Linked DNA regions of Homo sapiens. The protein of the gene in region 4 purifies or fractionates together with the protein of the main gene of each other region. This does not show direct contact. Each region holds a gene or a part of one and is shown on either strand. Other genes may lie near its edges. The genes, in order: KLHL36, PDXDC1, ECPAS, B3GAT1, STK26 and PCYOX1.

Region 1 (3,500 bases), on a different chromosome or scaffold from region 4:
AAGCCCGGTGTAGGCCAGCCTGGCTCTCTTTGTGGGTAACCAGGATAAATAGAGATCTCCACGTGTGTGACCTGTGAACTGAAAAGCCAGCCTGGAATGGAAGAGCGGGAGAGCCCGTCCTCTGAACTCAGAAGGAAATGCCAAGTCGGATCTGTCTGGCATCCTCCACAGGCTGTGAGAATGTGGCCTGCTCCTGTAGCATGGACAGAGAAGTTGCTGTTGGAATTGACTGGATGTGGAAATACCACAGGGAAATAAAGTGTCTCAATGACAAACGCATGTATGGCAACAAAAAGAAGATTTGAAAGGGAAGAAAAAAATAAAACCCACTGCTGTAGGACACATGTTAAGAAGCAACTTTTAAGAATTCAGAGCCTGGGCAGTTTAGGGAGACGTTGTCCCTGCAAATTATAAAAATCAGACAGGCGTGGTAGCGTGTGCCTGTAGTCCCAGTTACTCAGGAGGCTAAGGCGGAAGAATCACTTGAGCCCAGGAGGTCAAGGGCGACATAGTGAGACCTCGTCTCTACAAAAAAATTTTAAAATTAGCCAGGCATGGTGGCACACACCCGTAGTCCCAGCTACTCAGGAGGCTGAGGTGGGAGAATCACTTGAGCCCAGGAGGTCAAGGGTGCAGTGAGCCGAGATTGTGCCACTGCACTCCAGCCTGGGCAACAGAGTGAGACCCTGTCTCAAAAAAAAAAAAAAAAAAGTCGAACCACATAGCTGCTAATACCTAATAGCCCTCGGTCAGTTTTCTTCCTCCAACCACATTTCCCCTCTTCAGGCTAGTGCCCAGCCAGTTCTTCACCTCAGTCACCCTGGAATAGACCAGCTATCTATGTGATAGTTTTCAGTTACCTGTTTCTCCCTATGTTGAATTCATTTATTTATTTATTTAGAGACAGGGTTTCTTTTTGTCGTCCAGGCTGGAGTGCAGTGGCACAATCATGGCTCACTGCAGCCTCAAGCTCCTGGGCTTGAGCGATCCTCCTGCCTCAGCCTCCTGAGCAGCTGGGACTACAGGCGAATGCCACCACGCCCACCTAATTTTTAAATATTTTGTTAAGACAGGAATCTCGCTATGTTGCCCAGGTTGGTCTCGAACTTCCTGGCCTCAAGTGATTCTCCCGTCTCAGTCTCACAAAGCATTGAGATTACAGGCATGAGCCACCATGCCTGGCTTGAATTGTTGTGTTGTTTGGTTTTGGGTTTTTTTGGTTTGTTTTTTGTTTTTTCTTGTTTGTTTTGTTTTGTTTGTTTGTTTTTTGTTTTTTGAGACGGAGTTCTTGCTCTGTCTCCCAGGCTGGAGTGTAGTGGTGTGCTCTTGGCTCACTGCAACCTCCATCTCCTGGGTTCAAGCAATTCTCCTGCCTCAGCCTCCTGAGTAGCTAGGATTACAGGCACACGCCACCATGCCTGGCTAAATTTTGTATTTTTAGTAGAGACAGGGTTTCACCATGTTGGCCAGGCTGCTCTCAAACTCCAGTAGCCGGGCTGTCGTCCCAGCTACTCAGGAGGCTGAGGCAGGAGAATCACTTGAACCCGGGAGGCAGAGGTTGCAGTGAGCTGAGGTTGTGCCACTGCACTCCAGCCTGGGCGACAGAGCAAGGCTCTGTGTCAAAAAAAAAAAAAGAAAGAAAGAAAGAAAGAAGTTATATTAATAAGAGAAGGAAAAAAAAAACCACGATACACAGGCATACTCAGAAACACCTGTACTTCCTGCAGTGCCCTCTGATGCAGCATTTTATTTCCTGTTTTCTTCAGTTTCATTTTGTTGAAAATGCTGGTCAGGACCCACTGGGTTGGACCAGGGCCGAGCAGGCTGCTGCGCCGTTTCTAATGTGTCTTCTCTGTCCAGGTATACCGCTGGGCCGACCACTCAAGCACGGTGCTGCAGCGGCTGAACGAGCAGCGTCTCCGCGGGCTCTTCTGCGACGTCGTCCTGGTGGCCGATGAGCAGCGTGTGCCAGCCCATCGCAACCTGCTGGCCGTGTGCAGCGACTACTTCAACTCCATGTTCACCATCGGCATGCGGGAAGCTTTCCAGAAGGAGGTGGAGCTGATCGGCGCCTCCTACATTGGGCTCAAGGCCGTGGTGGACTTCCTGTACGGCGGGGAGCTGGTGCTGGATGGCGGCAACATTGACTACGTCCTGGAGACGGCTCACCTGCTGCAGATCTGGACGGTGGTAGACTTCTGCTGTGAGTACCTGGAGCAGGAGGTGAGCGAGGACAACTACCTGTACCTGCAGGAGCTGGCCTCCATCTACAGCCTCAAGCGGCTTGATGCCTTCATCGATGGCTTCATCCTGAACCACTTCGGCACGCTGTCCTTTACGCCCGACTTCCTGCAGAACGTCTCCATGCAGAAGCTGTGTGTCTACCTGAGCAGCAGCGAGGTGCAGCGGGAGTGTGAGCACGACCTCCTGCAGGCCGCCCTGCAGTGGCTGACGCAGCAGCCCGAGCGCGAGGCCCACGCCCGCCAGGTGCTGGAGAACATCCACTTCCCGCTCATCCCCAAGAACGACCTGCTGCACCGCGTCAAGCCGGCCGTGTGCTCGCTGCTGCCCAAGGAGGCCAACTGCGAGGGCTTCATCGAGGAGGCCGTGCGCTACCACAACAACCTGGCGGCCCAGCCCGTCATGCAGACCAAGCGCACGGCGCTGCGCACCAACCAGGAGCGCCTGCTGTTTGTGGGCGGCGAGGTCTCCGAGCGGTGTCTGGAGCTCAGTGACGACACCTGCTACCTGGACGCCAAGAGCGAGCAGTGGGTCAAAGAGACGCCGCTGCCCGCCCGGCGGAGCCACCACTGTGTCGCGGTGCTGGGGGGCTTCATCTTCATCGCCGGCGGCAGCTTCTCACGGGACAACGGAGGGGATGCGGCCTCCAATCTTCTTTATAGGTATGACCCCCGCTGTAAACAGTGGATCAAGGTGAGATTAAAGCCAGATTATTTCTTTTCTCTTGAGGACTCTCTCGGTTTCCTTAACCTAGCCTTGACTTTCCTTACCTCTCTGGGGCCTTGACAACTATCCTGCTTCTGAATGAGGTGTGATGATAAAGTGACGAGCAGAATACCCCGGGGCCTACATCCTGGACAGGGAGAGGGAGAGCCGACCCACCCCTTCGAGGGGTCCGTCATCGTTCAGAGCAGCACTGCCTGGCGGGGCTTTCTGTGCAGATGGAAGGGTCTGTCTGTACTTCCCGATACGGTAGCCACAGCCGCATGTGGCGACTGAGCACTTGAAATGTGGCCAGTGCGACTGAAGAAGTCAATTTTCAATTTTATTTCACTTTAACCGATTGACGTGTAAGTGTATGTGGCCGCACGAGGCGTGGCTACCCTATTGGACAGTAGCATGGGTCTAGATGTTTGATCCATGGTTCAACATCCCCAGGTCCTGGAGTCTCTGTGGGGCTCCTCTGGAAGCATTTTGGGAGATAGTTTAAGGAGACCACTAGTGCTCACGCCTGGCCCTTGGGCATGTATTGTGTCCTG
Region 2 (2,404 bases), on a different chromosome or scaffold from region 4:
TCTAGGAGGGGAGTCAGCTTGTCTAACTTCATGTACATGTAGAACCACGTTTGCTGTCCTACTACGACTTTTCCCTAAGTTACCATAAACACATTTTATTCACAAAAAACACTTCGAATTTCAAGTGTCTACCAGTAGCACCCTTGCTCTTTCTAAACATAAGCCTAAGTATATGAGGTTGCCCGTGGCAACTTTTTGGTAAAACAGCTTTTCATTAGCACTCTCCAGGTTCTCTGCAACACTTCACAGAGGCGAGACTGGCTGTATCCTTTGCTGTCGGTCTTTAGTACGATCAAGTTGCAATATACAGTGGGACTGCTAGACTTGAAGGAGAGCAGTGATTGTGGGATTGTAAATAAGAGCATCAGAAGCCCTCCCCAGCTACTGCTCTTCGTGGAGACTTAGTAAGGACTGTGTCTACTTGAGCTGTGGCAAGGCTGCTGTCTGGGACTGTCCTCTGCCACAAGGCCATTTCTCCCATTATATACCGTTTGTAAAGAGAAACTGTAAAGTCTCCTCCTGACCATATATTTTTAAATACTGGCAAAGCTTTTAAAATTGGCACACAAGTACAGACTGTGCTCATTTCTGTTTAGTATCTGAAAACCTGATAGATGCTACCCTTAAGAGCTTGCTCTTCCGTGTGCTACGTAGCACCCACCTGGTTAAAATCTGAAAACAAGTACCCCTTTGACCTGTCTCCCACTGAAGCTTCTACTGCCCTGGCAGCTCGCCTGGGCCCAACTCAGAAACAGGAGCCAGCAGAGCACTCTCTCACGCTGATCCAGCCGGGCACCCTGCTTAAGTCAGTAGAAGCTCGCTGGCACTGCCCGTTCCTACTTTTCCGAAGTACTGCGTCACTTTGTCGTAAGTAATGGCCCCTGTGCCTTCTTAATCCAGCAGTCAAGCTTTTGGGAGACCTGAAAATGGGAAAATTCACACTGGGTTTCTGGACTGTAGTATTGGAAGCCTTAGTTATAGTATATTAAGCCTATAATTATACTCTGATTTGATGGGATTTTTGACATTTACACTTGTCAAAATGCAGGGGGTTTTTTTTGGTGCAGATGATTAAACAGTCTTCCCTATTTGGTGCAATGAAGTATAGCAGATAAAATGGGGGAGGGGTAAATTATCACCTTCAAGAAAATTACATGTTTTTATATATATTTGGAATTGTTAAATTGGTTTTGCTGAAACATTTCACCCTTGAGATATTATTTGAATGTTGGTTTCAATAAAGGTTCTTGAAATTGTTACCAGTGAATTCAGTTTATAAATCTTATTACAAAAGACTTACCCACGTACCTGAAATAGCTGCCGATAGACCAGTGAGAGGTAGGTTCTCCTCTGCCCGTTATTACCGACCAAAAAAAAAACTGGACATCAATTTTTTAGTAAACCAAAAAATAAGTCTCAACAAATGCCTTTGCCAAAATAAGGTTTTATTTTGAAAGTCATTTGATGAAAGTCATTTGAAAGACACTGAGGAGGGAAGGAGGCCTAAGACCCAACAGATGTAGGATCCAGATCTGGATTCGTGCCAGCCCCACCAATGGTCTGTCAGGCCAAGAAGGTGCTTTCTTTGGTAATTCATGTTTTTTAACTTCCTGGAGAAGAGATCTTTTCCCACAAGCCATCTTCATTTTTTTTGTAGAGTAGGGCTTTATTTCCAGAAAACAGTGTGTGAGCTGGAGATGGGTGTTTTTTTAAAAACATCAAGGTAGATCTAATATGTTCAACAAAGTGGGGTGGCTCAGCCAGAGGCGAAGTGGAAAGATTCTGAAAACACAAGATGGTGGGCATTAGAGAAGCCAACCTTACTGTCCCCTGCTGTGATAAAGATGTCAAAGTATCTTTGTTCTTGGACACAAATATATATAATAAAATACGTTAAGAAATGAGGTGGCCTGAATTAGTAAGAAAAAAGTTGATTGCTTACTGCTTTACCCACACACATTTCCATCTAGGACTTGACATATCCCCATTTGATATACAAGTTAAATGGGGTCTGTCAATGGCATCCAAAAAGTTACTACCCGCCAAAGGGAAAGCAGCTATGACCTGGTCTAAACCCTTTTTTTCTTACAGATGGGGAAACCAGGGTGCAGAGATTTAAGACTTACCCAGCCTGTAAACTCTCACCTCTAGTATTTGCTTGTCATCTTGGTGCAACCAGAAATCCACATGTGGAAATGGTGTCCAGGAGTACGGTCCTATACGAAGTTGTTCTGTCTCTGCATCATAAATGCTAATCATCTAAAAAAGAACGTGTCAAGGATAGAATTTCAGGAATGTCACCCACTTTTCAAACCCTCCCAGTAACGCAAGCTCCAGTGTAGTCCTTTCATGCATTTATCTGCCTAAGCTTCTTAAAACCTGTCTCAAATAACAAAAGCTGCCA
Region 3 (3,500 bases), on a different chromosome or scaffold from region 4:
TCAGAAATTGGAGCTGGAGGCTGTTATCCTTAGCAAACTAACGCAGGAACAGAAAATCAAATACCACATGTTCTCACTTATAAGTGGGAGTTAGATGATAAGAACTTCTGAACGCAAAGAAGCAAACAACAGACACTGGGGTATACTTGAGGAGAGAGGGTGGGAGGAGGGAGAGGAGCAGAAAAGATAACTATGGGGTATTGGGCTTAATATCTGGGTAATGAAATAGTATATACAACAAACCCCCATGACACATATTTACCTATATAACAAACCTTCACATGTACCCTCGAACCTAAAATAAAAGTTAAAAATTATAATAAAAATCATTATTTTTTAAAAGCCGTGTGTGTGTGTGTGTGTGTGTGTGAGAGAGAGAGAAAGACAGAGAGAGAGGAAAGAAATCTGAAGTAAATGGCCTATTACTCCTGCAGAATTCCAGTTGTGTTTACTCCATTGACACAAGAATCTGAGAAAATGGGTTCAATTCATCTACAGAAAAATAGATATAACACCATAAAAACCTCTGATATAGACCAGACACAGTGGCTCACGCCTGTAATCCCAACACTTTGGGAGGCTGAGGCAGGAGGACTGCTTTAGCTCAGGAGTTCAAGACCAGCCTGGGAAACATGGTGAAACCCATCTCTACCAAAAAGATAACAGAATTAGCCAGGGGTGGTGGTGCACGCCTGTAGTCATGGCTACTCAGGAGACTGGGACGGAGGTTCACTTGAGCCCAGGAGGCAAGGTTGCAATGAACCGAGATCACGCCATTCACTGTACTCCAGCACGGGCAACAGAGTGAGACTCCTTCTCAAAAAAAAAAAAAACCAAACAAACAAAAAAAACAACCCTTACATAAACAGGCTGCCAAGGAGTCCATCCTCTGGAAGCTTTTTCATTGATCGTTAAAATAGGATAGGCAGCAAATTCACTGTGAATATTCTTAATCCGAACAAGATCACCTCTTGTAATTTACCTAGAGCAAGTCAATAATCTAAAAAACAGAATTTCCCTTAATAAGTGTGATCAATTTAATCCTCTCCAACCTTCAAAACTAAATAACCCTAACAACCTCAACAACAGGTTGGCTTTAAAACCCAAATCTAACTTGCTGCAAAATCCCAATAGTAATCACTACAGAACATCCAGTTTTTTCACAAAAAGAATCTCACTGAGATAAATATATTTACATACTTCACTATGAATTAAAATAATACCAATTTCCCAATACTTTTTTTTTAAATAAACAACCCGATGAAGAACAATGACACCACAATATGGGTTTACCTAAAACACAACAAAATGACAGACCCCTCTTTGGGTGTGGTGTGATCTTTTTAGAACACTTACAAAAAGTAAATAGAAATATATGAAAGTTCTACCTCTCCAAAGGCTGCTGGGTTAAATGGAAGGACAGTGGTCCCGGTCATGTACTTGACTGGAGTTTTCATTCGATGAGAAGCCTAAGTTTAAAAAGTCCAAAACAGACACAATTACTGAAAAATGAAGCATACCTGCCCTTCCTCAACTCAAAAACAACTGTGTTTCTAGCTACATGTCCTAAGTTTGCTTCTTTTTCTGATCAAACATTTTCCACTTTCCTATTAACCATGCTGATCGTGCATGTCCCTCACACACTAAAAGACAAGTGTATTGCCCTTTTTCCATGTTTGTTCTGGTTTGTTTAAAAATAATAAACCTATTCCAGACATCTACTAATATGGTCATCTCAGGTCACTGCATGCCAGTTATTTTCATTAATAATCAAAGTAGGAGGAAACTACAAGCAGAGAATCTTCTGACCACAAATAGACTGTGCTGCTATGTGGAAAACAGAATCATGGCCGCTGCATACTGACCTTCAACTCCCTTAAGGTGCCTACCTAGCAAAGAGCTAGGATCACCAGTGGAGGTAAAAGGTAGGAAGGTGTCCTCCGGCAAAGTGGGACAGAGTCAAGGCCTGGAGGGGGTGGATGGTCATTACTGCCAATATCCTGGATCTACTAGCAGAAAACACTGTGCAAAAGCAAAAACTTACAAAAGCAGATGGGATGCTCTCTTATGAACACGGTGGGAAGAACATGAACTGTTCCCTGAAGCATCCTTAAACTTACACTACCCTAAAGCGTGCCCTTAAAAATAAAAAGGAGAACCAGCGTGGGCAATATAGCAAAACTCTGTCTCTACAAAAAATAAAAAAATTAGCCAGGCACGGTGGTGCACGCCTGTAGTCCCAGCTATCGGGAGGCTGAGGAGGGTGGATCACTTGAGTCTGGGACGTGGAGGTTTTAGTGAACTGAGACCACACCACTGCACTCTAGCCTGGGTGACCAGAGCAAGACCCTGTCTCAAAAAAAAATAAAAAAATTTTAAAAAAAGGAGATGTATTTTTAAGCATGTCATATTAAGGGAAAAAATATTTAACACAGCCAAAATGTTGCCAAGCATGAAAGGAATTATAAGTAATTCAAGTTTAGGCAAAACAGATCAATTACAGGTGAGGATTACAATTTTTTTTCCTCACTTTGTATCTTCTTCTTATTGTAAGTATTAATGCTAGAAACTTTATGAGTCAGCTGGGCATGGTGGTTCATGCCTGTAAACCTAGCACTTTGGGAGGCCAAGGCAGGTGGATCACCTGAGGTCAGGAGTTCAAGACCAGCCTGGCCAACATGGTGAAACACTGTTTCTACTAAAAATACAAAAAATTAACCGGGCTTGGTGGCAGGCGCCTATAATCCCAGCTATTCAGGAGCTGGGGCAGGAGAATCACTTGAACCCAGGTAGTGGAGTTTGCAGTGAGCCAAGACCGTGCCATTGCACTCCAGCCTGGGCAACAAGAGCGAAGCTCCATCTCAAAAAAAAAAAAGAAAAGAAAAGAAAAAGAAATTTTATGAGTCAACATCTAGTGATTACATTTTTCACTTTAAAGATGTTTTTATTTTCATCATCCATTATGATTTAGACTAATTACCTTAAGTTGCATGCCATACCTTTTCTTGGATGTAATAAACCATTTCTGGGAAGGAAGGCATCTGCTCAGAAGTACTTTCTTTTCTGTTTCTACCTGGAAGACACCTTAATACGCGTTGTGCTTCTCCATGAACTTCTTCACGTCTTTCAGAAAAAGACAAATAAGAATAAAAAATAAATGTCACCAATGGGAAATGATCATTTGAAGAATAAGAACAGCAATTTTATTTGGCAGCTAGAGTTCTCAGAAAATGTCTTAAATACATTCTTGGCTATCTAAGCAGAGTCAACATAACACATTATAAGAAATCACTTCTTTTCAGAAATTGCATGAGGTCCGGGGACTCATCTGGCTTACATCTTTGAATTTGACTCACATTAAAAAACAAGATAGGGTACTTTAAGTAAATTATTATGTAAATATCTATGTGTATGCTTTACCTCGTAGAGTTAAACCATAAACAACTATAATACATATTTTAGAAGTCAGTGACTATCCAGTGGTCTACACACTCCACCCA
Region 4 (3,235 bases):
AATGATGTTGAGAGAAGCTAAATGAATGTTCCAAGGTGACACACTGGCACGAGTGAATTGTGCTGGGTGGTTGGCAAAGCCAGGCATTTTCAGGGGCTTTTCTGTGATCTTATCCTGTCTCTTAAAAGCAGCTGGTACTCCTGACTCCCTACTCTAGGTTATGCCAAACAGAGGTTGAGGCCTGAGACAGACATTTGTCCTCTTGCCCTGGAGCTAAGCAATAGCTTCTGTATTGTGTTTGCCCGCAGAGGACCACAGGGTGTCACTCAGTCACCTTGGCCAGCGCCACTTAGAATGCATCTGTACCGAGCCTCACTTCTGCCTCCTGCCCTCACTGCCCTCACTGGAAGCACCTTCCCCACCTGCCCCTCAGAAAGGCCCCCACAGGACCTGGGGGCCTGGGCTTTGCAGAGGTCCTGGTGGCCCTGCCTGGCCATTCCCTCCCCGGCCCCACCCTCAGCCGACACCTCACTCATTCCTCCTCTCCCCTCACAGGAGCCTCCTCCTCAGACCCTGTTCTTGGCCTTCCATCCTCTCCCCACGGCTGATGGTCCCTCCAAGGCCGACTCCTAAGGAATCACCATCACCCTCCTTTCTATTCTGGGGGCTTCTGAGAGAGCCCAGCCTGATGCCAGAACAAAGGACAGAGAATTTAAGCACAGAAATCCCAGACCTGTTGTTCTCTCCATCCAGCGTGACCAGGGCCCGAGAGACCTGATGGCCAGGGTGGGGTGTCCAGCACCAGCCAAGCTGGTGCTCCAGCGCACCTCCCCAGAGCTCCCCGCACTGACGGGGCTGCAGGAGCAGGTGCAGTGGGCGCCCACACTGGCCCTGCAGTGATGCAGGGCGGGAGGGAGATAAGAAGACCCCGCAGTCAAGTGGAGCATGGCCCTCCCTGGCTCCCTGTCCCTGGGCTCAGCACGACCACACAGGACACCCAGCCAGGGAATTCTGAAGACCAGAGAGCAGCCCACGGGCATCACGAGCGCTCTGCTCCTCTCCTGGGCCCCTGCTCTTCCCGAGAGCTGCCCCCAAATCAGACATACCTCTGTGGCTCTCCTCTGGTTCACGTTTACAGAGCATAAGGCTGTCTTGGATCCCAACAGGCACCCAGCCCTGCATGGGGGGAGCCTGGGCCTAATAGGCACCCCCTGTACCTCAGGCTGTGGCGGGAGCAGAGTCCCCCCCTCCGGCCCCTCTTCCTTTACCCCTTCTCCTCCAGCAGTGGCAAAGGGGTAGGCTCTAGAGCCAGCACAGGTCACTGCCTGACCTGGACTAAGAACCCCACGGCCCCACTGTCCACACACTGCCTCCCCACCGCCCACCTCGGCTGCTAGGCCCCTCGCCTGGACTGGACTGGGGAGGGAAAGCGCCTTTTCCTGCAGCTCTTCAGAGCCACAGACCTCAGGGTGGAGTGAGCCCATGGTGGGCAGTGGGCAAGGCGGTGGGTGGTGGGCAAGGTGGGACCTCCTGCAGCCTGGAAAGAGGAGGGAGGCCAAGGCCATTCCCTAACTCCCTCCTGCCCCTGGTCTGAGGAGGAGGGACTCTGGAGTAGCAGAGGGGCTGGGAAAGAGGGGGCAGGGGCTGCTGGGACACTGAGCAGGAGGGAGGCCTGAGCACACTGCTTTGGAAATTATTCTAAACACAAAAAAGGGAAAGAAAATGTTATTTCTCCCTAAGTCAGGAGCATGCAGAGCTAGCCCACCTCATGTCCAGCTGTCCACTTTCCATCCTGGAGAAAGAACAGTGTGCCTCAAACTCCTGCCCTCCCCAGGCCTCTGGGGCCCACTGGAAAGGGCTCTGACCCCCTGGCCCAGCCGGGCTCTCTAGTGGTGATCCGGCTCATTCTCCTGCAAGTTGGAAGCACAATTTTCCCCCCAAGTGGAGGAAAAGGAAAGGGCCCCAGCCTACTGAAGAGGTGTTTATTTTTTAACTAACAGCCTCCCACCCCATTAAGACTCACCAGGAGAGGTCTGAGGGCCATTCAGAACCCACTCCTGAGTGGGTGGGTGGGTGGGACTCAGTCCAGAGACCTAACATTCAGAATATAGCATTGGTTGCCTATTTTGAGATGGATTTAATCTCCCACAGTATTCATGAGACCATCTGATGGAATCAGATCCCTGAGCCACCTTGCAGGACGTTTTCCCCAACCTCTTACACCCTGGATGTCACTTTGGAAACCAAGCCCTTGGAAGCAAGTGGGGTGGCATGGGAGAGAAGGGAGGAGGTGGGCACAGGTGGTGAGCTTATGTGTGGGCACTCTACTGCCTCACAGAAGCCAGCCAAGTGCCAAGGTCAGCTTGGCTGGTCTGAGGCCACCTTCTTAGCCAAAAACCTAGGGTTCATTTTCAGGACTTTGATAATGAACAACAAAATGGGGACTTCTTTGGGCAGATGCTAGGTCAGTTGTTTTCACCTAATATCCTCTTTTAGCTGCATGTATATTTATTTATAATTATAACCCTGGTGGACTGCAGCCTTCATCTTTATTGGGAATGAGTTTGTTATAAATCAGAAATGGGTCCATGATGACCACTGTTTTCCAAACCCAGTCTGTTCCCTGCTCCCTCGCTGGCAAGCCCCACCACACAGGAGTGAGGCCAGGGGCTAGGAGTTCTAAGAACAGAGGCTGGGGTGAGGGTGGCACCCAGGCAGCTGCATCTGGTCTGTTTTAATTTAACTGTATTTAATTTGCTTTCAAAATTAAAAGTCAAATACAGTTTTTAACAGTCCTAATCCTCTTCAGCCCTGCCTTATTTTGTTCTCATTTATTAATTTAGCTACCCAACAAGTATGTATCAGGTGCCTGTTATGAACAGGCATCATTCTAGGAGCCGACACACAGCAGTGAGAAAACAAGGCTCTCATTTTCAAAGAACTGACCCACTGACGAGAGGAGACAGGCAATAACGAATGCATATTATTTCAGATGCAATCTGTTGTATGGAGGATGAGGGTGAGTCGGGGAGACAGAGGTAGCAGTGGAGAGGGTCAGTGCTCTGTAGGGTGACCACAGAGGCCTCCGTGATAAGTGACCCTTGAGCGAAGCAGCAACACCCTGACATGCAGCTCCCCGGGCCCAAGAAGAACGAACTCTCCACCAGGCGGAACAAGCGTTGCTCAGCCTGCTTACAGATCAGCAGGAAGGCCATCGGGCTCAACTGACGGGGCGGGGGCTGCTGGGGGCAACAGCAGTGAGGGATGTGGTGGGCGTGGGAGAAGGGAGTCCCCA
Region 5 (3,500 bases), on a different chromosome or scaffold from region 4:
TGGTTCTTACAATGGTGGATAGGTTAAAAATTGTTTCTTCTGCCACAAGTTTGTTTCTAACAAGTACTATACTCTATCATATGAATTCAGAGAGCTTCCCATTCACCTGACATTTAAAAGAAAAAGATCTTATAAAACATGCCTGCCTATTTTGCAGTTCTGCATGAATGAAAGCACCTGTTTTCCAAGTTAAAAACAATGTGTGCCTTTTTGTTTGTACTAATTCAAAACAGAAACTTGCCAACTGTCTGTCAGTAAAACGTGTTCATAGAAAGCTTGAAATGTGACTTTACAAAGTAGTATATACCATTAAGCATTAAAATTACAACTACTCAATTTCTAGATCTGAAAATAAGGAATCCTTATTTGTTCTGGAAATCAGTGGTGGTGAGGGCTGCACAACACGCCTGTAATCCTGGTATTTTGGGAGGCCGAGGTGGGAGGATCGCTTGAGTCCAGGAGTCTGAGAGCAGTCTAGGCAACATAGGGAGTCCTCATCTCTACAAAAAGTGCAAAAAAGTAGCCAGGTGTGGTGGCATATGCCTGTAGTCCCAGCTACTCGGGAGGCTGAGGTGGGAGGATCAATTGAACCTGGGAGGTGGAGGCTGCAGTGGGCCAAGACTGCGCCACTGTACTCCAGCTCGGGAGACAGAGTGAGACCCTGTCACAAAAAAAAAGCAAAACAAAAAAACAAAACAAAAAAAAAACCACCCAAAAAACAAACAAACAAAAAAAACACAAAATCAATGTGAATGTAGCCAATGCCAGAGAGCTGTACACTTAAAATGGCAAATTTAGTGTTAAGTATATTTTGCCTGATTAAAAAAAACATACAGCACATAAGACTTTATAAAACTGGAAGTGACAGTAGAGATCATCTTGCCAAGAATATGGCTAGAAAATTTACCACTTCTGAGTCATTTTCCTCCAGCTTGGAATGCTGTGTCCCTACCCCACTTGCACCTTCCAACCCCTATCAAAATCATTCTCAAGACTTAGTTCAAATGCTACCTCCCTAGTTTGAGGGTTATTGCACTTGATGTACTCACAGATAAGCAGGCTATTAATATGAAGCAAGTTATAAACACATATCTGGGGCTGAGCAGAGAGGATGAAACCAGAGACATCAGTTTAGAAGTTGTCAGACGAAAGTAGATGAGATTAACCACAATATGCAAAAGAAGAGGAATACACATAGTAGGCATTAATAAATAAGCGTCTGTTGAATTGAATCTAACATGGGGCTTCTTAGAGGTGTATTATATTAAGTTTAAAGCTATTCCTATTTTGAGAAAAGAACATTTTAAGAAGGAACAAACTTTCTAGCCTCCATTTTCTTCAAGTTTTATAAGAGAACTCCAAAACAAATGTTAACAATAAAAGAATATTCCAGAGGCATTGAGCATACATAAACTGGCTGTAAGCACATACAGTTTCAGTGAAAAATAAGGAGAAGGCCACAAAGCCGTACAGATGATTCTGAAATATTTTACTTCATTCAATTCTTTTTTTTTTCATAAATACTGGTGATGGTGGGTGGGAGGCAATATTTCCTTAACATACACAGAAATCTAAAGGCAATTTTCAGCAGCAAATAAAGGCATGATTCAAATTCTATTCAATGCCTGAGTGTCATTTTAAGATTTACACTGAACTAGAAAAATATTTAAAGATTATAAAAGATTATTCCAATATTATGAGATCAGAAGGGAAGGGTTTGCTTATTTTAGCACTCTTCATAAAGACTAACTTTGTCAAGAAAATCTGCCCAGTGAACTAAAATTAAAGGAAAACACTGTGGTCATACTGATGTGTTTGTCTGGTTTTTAACTCTTGTTTTCAAAAATGAAGTTATACAGTGAGCTTAGTCAAAATGAATACCTAGTACATTTTTTGCATGTCTCAAGGAAATCACTACAACTGCATACAGTTTCAAAGAACATATAATTTTCTCTCAAATGTAATAAACTTTTCCTCCAGCTTACAGTGAGGTCTTAGTTATGGATGACATCCTGTGTAAGAACAACCCATTTCCCAGTTTGCTCAATTAACTTGACTCACAAAATCCTCCATGTCACCTGAAATGGAACAATGGGCCACAATAAGTATGTAAGTTGACTGATAACACAGTTCCCTGATGGCACAAAGAGGATGTGGCCTTGACTTATGTTGACTACATGAAACAGAATCCTGTTATATTTGACGTGATTTTAGTTTAGAAAAAAATACAAACCCACACAGTCATACTATGTTGTAATATAAATGGAAAATAAATGAGTTGGTCAATTTAAGAAAGTGATTTAAATACATGGTATGAAAACGTTGTAAGATTATAGAATATTTCTTTCTCTGTGTGTATATACATATGTCTCAAGACATATGTATATACACACAGATTTATTTACTTTAAATAGATTCAGAACACAAATAATCAACATAAGCCAGCTGCACATTTCTACAATTTTATCATGAAGCAACATGTTCTTCAAAGTAGTGTTTTATATCATAGAGTTTAGTTAATGATGGGTGAAGGAGATAAAAATAATTTGATTTAATCCCTTAAGAAGCTATCTTGGACGATGGTTTTGTAGCACTGGCTGGTCTGAGTACACTTTACAATCAAAATTTGGGACAAACAAAAAACTAGTTTTTAATTATTTAAAGATTAAGTAAATACTGGGTGACTAGTACATGTATACTACTGTGCAACTTAAAAAACACTCTATATGAAATCTTAGGAAAAGAAGATAGAGCTGTCACTCATTTTCCATGGGAGTATTGAATATGAATAAATAAGCAACCAATAAAATTGTCAAACCATATCAGTACCAATTTTCAATATATTATGGAATAGCCATTTTAAATAGGGCGTATTTAATATTTTAGGTCAGCAACCAAAAATAGTGTTTTTGTCACAGGTGCCTAAAAGTAGCAAGGATTCAGTTTTGCCCTAGAGTGAGTCTGGAAATACCGGGATTCAGTCCAGAAAGAGTAAACCAGAATGAGCAAATGATACACACACAGACACACACACACACACACACACATACACACACACGCACACACACACATGTACCACCAAGGAATTGTATGGGAATTAGGAGGAGAACCTAAAACTACTGAGACTGCGTAATCACTCATGAGATCTCTAAAAAAGAATATGATGGGCTGAATTAGCTTTTTAGGAACAAATATGACAGCAAAATTATCACACAAAGGAGCAAATAATTATGTATGTAGTAAAATACAGTAATAGCTAACACTTAGATGTAAATGCTGAAATTGGATAGAAATTACTAGCATTATCACCTCCTTTTGGAGGCCTTTTATTCATGCCACTCCTGAAAAGGACAGAAGTGACTACTTACTAATTTGTGCATCATCTATACCTTGTACATACTTTAACCATAAAATTGGCATCATTTCAGTGCAAAACTGGACTGTGAGTGCCTTGACAGCAGTAGTGAGTTTGTTCACTTTTATATCTTCAGCACCTAATA
Region 6 (3,500 bases), on a different chromosome or scaffold from region 4:
GTTTGTGGTAATTTGTTATAGCAGCAGTGGAAAACCAAGACACCTCCTAAATCATCTGCCATTACTGTTATATTGCTACCATTTGTTCTCAGGTTAGCAGCCAAAGTAGTTCTTTAAAATCTAAGGCTCATCACATCACTCCACTAACTCAGAAACCTTCAGTGGCTATTTCATTAATAGAGATTTATAGCCAAAATCTGTTTTGTGACTGAGAAGACATGACAGGATTCTGTGCTCTCATCCCTTACTTTTAAATTTGTTTTCCCCAAAATTCATAGGTTGAAACACTAGCCACCCAGTACTCAGAATGTGACTGCATATGTATGTAGGGCCTTTAAATATGTGATTAAGTTAAAATGAGGTCTTTAGCGTAGACCCTAAAACAATTTGATGGGTGTCCTTAAGATTAGGACACAGAAAGGAGGCCAAGGCGGGCAGATCACCTGAGGTTGGGAGTTCGAGACCAGCCTGACCAACATGGTGAAACCCCTTCTCTACTAAAAATACAAAAAATTAGCTGGGCGTGGTGGTGCATGCTTGTAATCCCAGCTACTCAGGAAGGCTGAGGCAAGAGAATCACTTGAACCTGGGCGGCAGAGGTTGCAGTGAGCCATTGCACTCCAGCCTGGGCAACAAGCGTGAAACTCTGTCTCAGAAAAAAAAAAAAAAAAATTGGGACACAGAAGAAACACACAAAGACCATGTGAGGACACAGCAAGAAGGTGGCCATCTGCAAGCCAAGGAAATAGGCCTCAGAAGAAACCGAATGCATCCACACCTTGATCTTGGACTTTTGGCCTACAGAACTATAAGAAATAAAACTTTTTTTGTTTAAGCCATCCAGTCTTTGGTACTGTGTTATGGCAGTCTTGGTGAACTAATACACTGTTGTCATTTTCAGTAACTGTCCATTATTGAAAATGGGATATTGAAGTCTCCATTATTGTTGAACTATGTATTTCAGTTCTGTCAAGATCATTTGATCATATTCATGAAGGTTTATTTCTGGGTTTTCTTATTTGTTTCAAGGATCTGTGTGTCTGTTTTTTTTTTTTTTTCAGATGATGTTTTACTCTGTTGCCCAGGCTAGAGTGTAGTATGTTCACAGCAACCTCTGCCTCCCAGGCTCAAGCAATTCTCCAACCTCAGGCCCCTTGAGTGGCTGGGACTACAGATGTGCACTACCATGCCCAGCTAATTTTTTTTTTTTTTTTTTTGAGACAGAGTCTCGCTCTGTTGCCCAGGCTGGAGTTCAGTGGCGCTATCTCGGCTCACTGCAACCTCTGCCTCCCGGGTTCAAGCAATTCTTGTGCCTCAGCCTCCTGAGTAGGTGGGACTACAGGCATGCACCACCAACCCTGGCTAATTTTTTGTGTTTTTAGTAGAGATGGGTTTTCGCCATGATGGCCAGGCTGGTCTCGAACTCCTAACCTCAAGTGATCCTCCAGCCTGTGCCTCCCAATGTGCTGGGATTACAGGCGTGAGCCACTGCACCCGGCCTTTTTTAAAAAGTTTTTTTGGTCAGCCTCTTGTAGTCTCTATTGATGTCATAGCCTCCGGCATCTGTGATGTTAAACAATTGCCACAGATTTTTTTTTTGACACGTGGACACGTGCCCTCAGGATGGGGCTGTTGCATAGAGTGAACTTTGAATCAGGTCGAATAAAGACAAGCCTTCAGGATAGAGCTTTTTCGGAGCTGCCAGATAGGTCAAATATTGACAGTTCTCTGAGGATAGTGCTTTTTGGGAGCTACAAACTCGTTGTGTTCTCTCCAGTGGCTTCTAGCTTGCTAGTTTCACATTGCAGTTGGAAGGGTGCTGGTTTTATTTTTTATTTTTTTTTCTCTCTCTCTTTTTCTCTTTCTTTCTTTCTTTCGACGGAGTCTCCCTCTTGTCGCCCAGGCTGGAGTGCAATGGTGCGATCTTGGCTCACTGCAACCTCCATCTCCTGGGTTCAAGCGATTCTCCTGCCTCAGCCTCCTGAATAGCTGGGATTACAGGCGTGTGCCACCACACCTGGCTAATTTTTTATATTTTTGGTACAGATGGTGTTTCACCATGTTGGGCAGGCTGGTCTTGAACTCCTGACCTCAAGTGATCCGCCTGGCTCAGCTTCCCAGAGTGCTGGGATTACAGGTGTGAGCCACCATGCCTGCCAGACATTTTTCTTGAATAAATACTCCTTGGACTTGGAAAGGCTTTGGTTTATCTGCAGAGCTCTGAAAGAGTCAATGTTGATCATTTTTGGCAGTATTCTCATAGCTTTTATGGAGGAGCAGATTTCCAGAGGTCCTTCCTCTGCCATTCTGGAAGTTTCCTCTCCCCAGTAACATTTCTGGCTGTACCACTCCCGGTTCTCCCATATCACTCTGCTTCAGCTGCTCTGGCTTCATTGTTTCTTGAATGTGCCAGGCAAGCTTCTGTCATGTGACCTTTGCATTGCTTTTACCTCTACCGGAAATATTTTCCCCCAGGTGTTTGCCTGGTTTGCATCCTCATCTCCTTCGGGTCTTTGGTCTATATCATCTTCTCAGTGAGGCTTTTCCTGACCACTCTTGTTTTTGGACAGTCTTATTTAGAATTCAACCCTCCTAACCCCATGTATTTCTAGTCTTCTTTTCAGACCATTTTCTCCTTTTTTTTTTCTTTTGAGATGGAGTCTGTCTCTGTTGCCCAGGCTGGAGTGCAGTGGCACGATCTTGGCTCTCCTCGGCTCACCTTGGCTCACTGTGCCACTGCACCACTACGCCCGGCTAATTTTGTATTTTTAGTAGAGACAGGGTTTCTCCATGTTGGTCAGGCTGGTCTCGAACTCCTGACCTCAGGTGATCCACCTGTCTTGGCCTCCCAAAGTGCTGGGATTACAGGCGTGAGCCACTGTGCCTGGCCCCAGTTATATTTTTTTAAAAATTATTATTTTTTTGTTTTTGTTTTTGTTTTTTTTAAGACAAGGTCTCACTCTGTTGCCCAAGCTGGATGGAGTGCAGTGGTGTGATCACAGCTCACTGCAGCCTCAACCAGCGGGGCTGAAGTGATCCTCATGCCTCAGCTTCCTGAATAGCTGGGACTACAGGCATGCCTCACCATGCCTGGCTAATTTTTTTTTTTTTTTTTTTCTGTAAGTATTTTATTTATCACTGAAGAAAAAACACAGCAGCAAGTTCTGTGTTGGCTTCAATGAGACCAAATAGTTCATCTTTAACATAGCTACTGCGCTCCAAAATTGAAGTCAACACAGTCATTACTACAAATTACTTGTTGAAAGAATCTATCTTCAAAAGAAAGAAAATTAGGAAAGAGAATTTAAACGATTCCTCCAAACCATACATTTATAAATATTGTCATATTTAAAATGCTTGAAAGGCGTGAATTCTCCATTAATGGAAAAGCAGTTTGCTATTGGCAACAGAAAAAAACTCAGCGATAATTTACCAAATGCTTTAAAATTTAAAAGCTATACTGTTTGGATTCACACTTGCGCAGTAATCTTGTCATTACA

What was found.
Region 1: the proteins of B3GAT1 (region 4) and KLHL36 purify together in Homo sapiens (affinity purification with mass spectrometry; one large-scale study listed by BioGRID and IntAct). This does not show direct contact.
Region 2: the proteins of B3GAT1 (region 4) and PDXDC1 purify together in Homo sapiens (affinity purification with mass spectrometry; one large-scale study listed by BioGRID and IntAct). This does not show direct contact.
Region 3: the proteins of B3GAT1 (region 4) and ECPAS purify together in Homo sapiens (affinity purification with mass spectrometry; one large-scale study listed by BioGRID and IntAct). This does not show direct contact.
Region 5: the proteins of B3GAT1 (region 4) and STK26 purify together in Homo sapiens (affinity purification with mass spectrometry; one large-scale study listed by BioGRID and IntAct). This does not show direct contact.
Region 6: the proteins of B3GAT1 (region 4) and PCYOX1 purify together in Homo sapiens (affinity purification with mass spectrometry; one large-scale study listed by BioGRID and IntAct). This does not show direct contact.

The regions. Positions count from the first base shown.
Region 1 is NC_000016.10:84,655,011-84,658,510, forward strand, and holds part of KLHL36 (kelch-like protein 36), read left to right. Parts: intron 1-1,860; coding exon 1,861-2,934; intron 2,935-3,500.
Region 2 is NC_000016.10:15,036,429-15,038,832, forward strand, and holds the end of PDXDC1 (pyridoxal-dependent decarboxylase domain-containing protein 1), read left to right. Parts: 3' UTR 1-1,602; coding exon of another isoform or gene 1,603-1,782; 3' UTR 1,783-1,904; downstream 1,905-2,404. Other genes in the region: NTAN1 (protein N-terminal asparagine amidohydrolase), read right to left, coding at 1,603-1,782, 2,146-2,259.
Region 3 is NC_000009.12:111,414,884-111,418,383, forward strand, and holds part of ECPAS (proteasome adapter and scaffold protein ECM29), read right to left. Parts: intron 3,124-3,500; coding exon 3,000-3,123; intron 1,470-2,999; coding exon 1,389-1,469; intron 1-1,388. UniProt on the Homo sapiens protein: Adapter/scaffolding protein that binds to the 26S proteasome, motor proteins and other compartment specific proteins. May couple the proteasome to different compartments including endosome, endoplasmic reticulum and centrosome.
Region 4 is NC_000011.10:134,378,008-134,381,242, reverse strand, and holds the end of B3GAT1 (galactosylgalactosylxylosylprotein 3-beta-glucuronosyltransferase 1), read left to right. Parts: exon of another isoform or gene 1-488; intron 489-495; 3' UTR 496-2,735; downstream 2,736-3,235. UniProt on the Homo sapiens protein: Involved in the biosynthesis of L2/HNK-1 carbohydrate epitope on glycoproteins. Can also play a role in glycosaminoglycan biosynthesis. Substrates include asialo-orosomucoid (ASOR), asialo-fetuin, and asialo-neural cell adhesion molecule.
Region 5 is NC_000023.11:132,057,802-132,061,301, reverse strand, and holds part of STK26 (serine/threonine-protein kinase 26), read right to left. Parts: intron 1-3,500. UniProt on the Homo sapiens protein: Serine/threonine-protein kinase that acts as a mediator of cell growth. Modulates apoptosis. In association with STK24 negatively regulates Golgi reorientation in polarized cell migration upon RHO activation.
Region 6 is NC_000002.12:70,268,137-70,271,636, forward strand, and holds part of PCYOX1 (prenylcysteine oxidase 1 precursor), read left to right. Parts: intron 1-3,500. UniProt on the Homo sapiens protein: Prenylcysteine oxidase that cleaves the thioether bond of prenyl-L-cysteines, such as farnesylcysteine and geranylgeranylcysteine. Only active against free prenylcysteines and not prenylcysteine residues within prenylated proteins or peptides.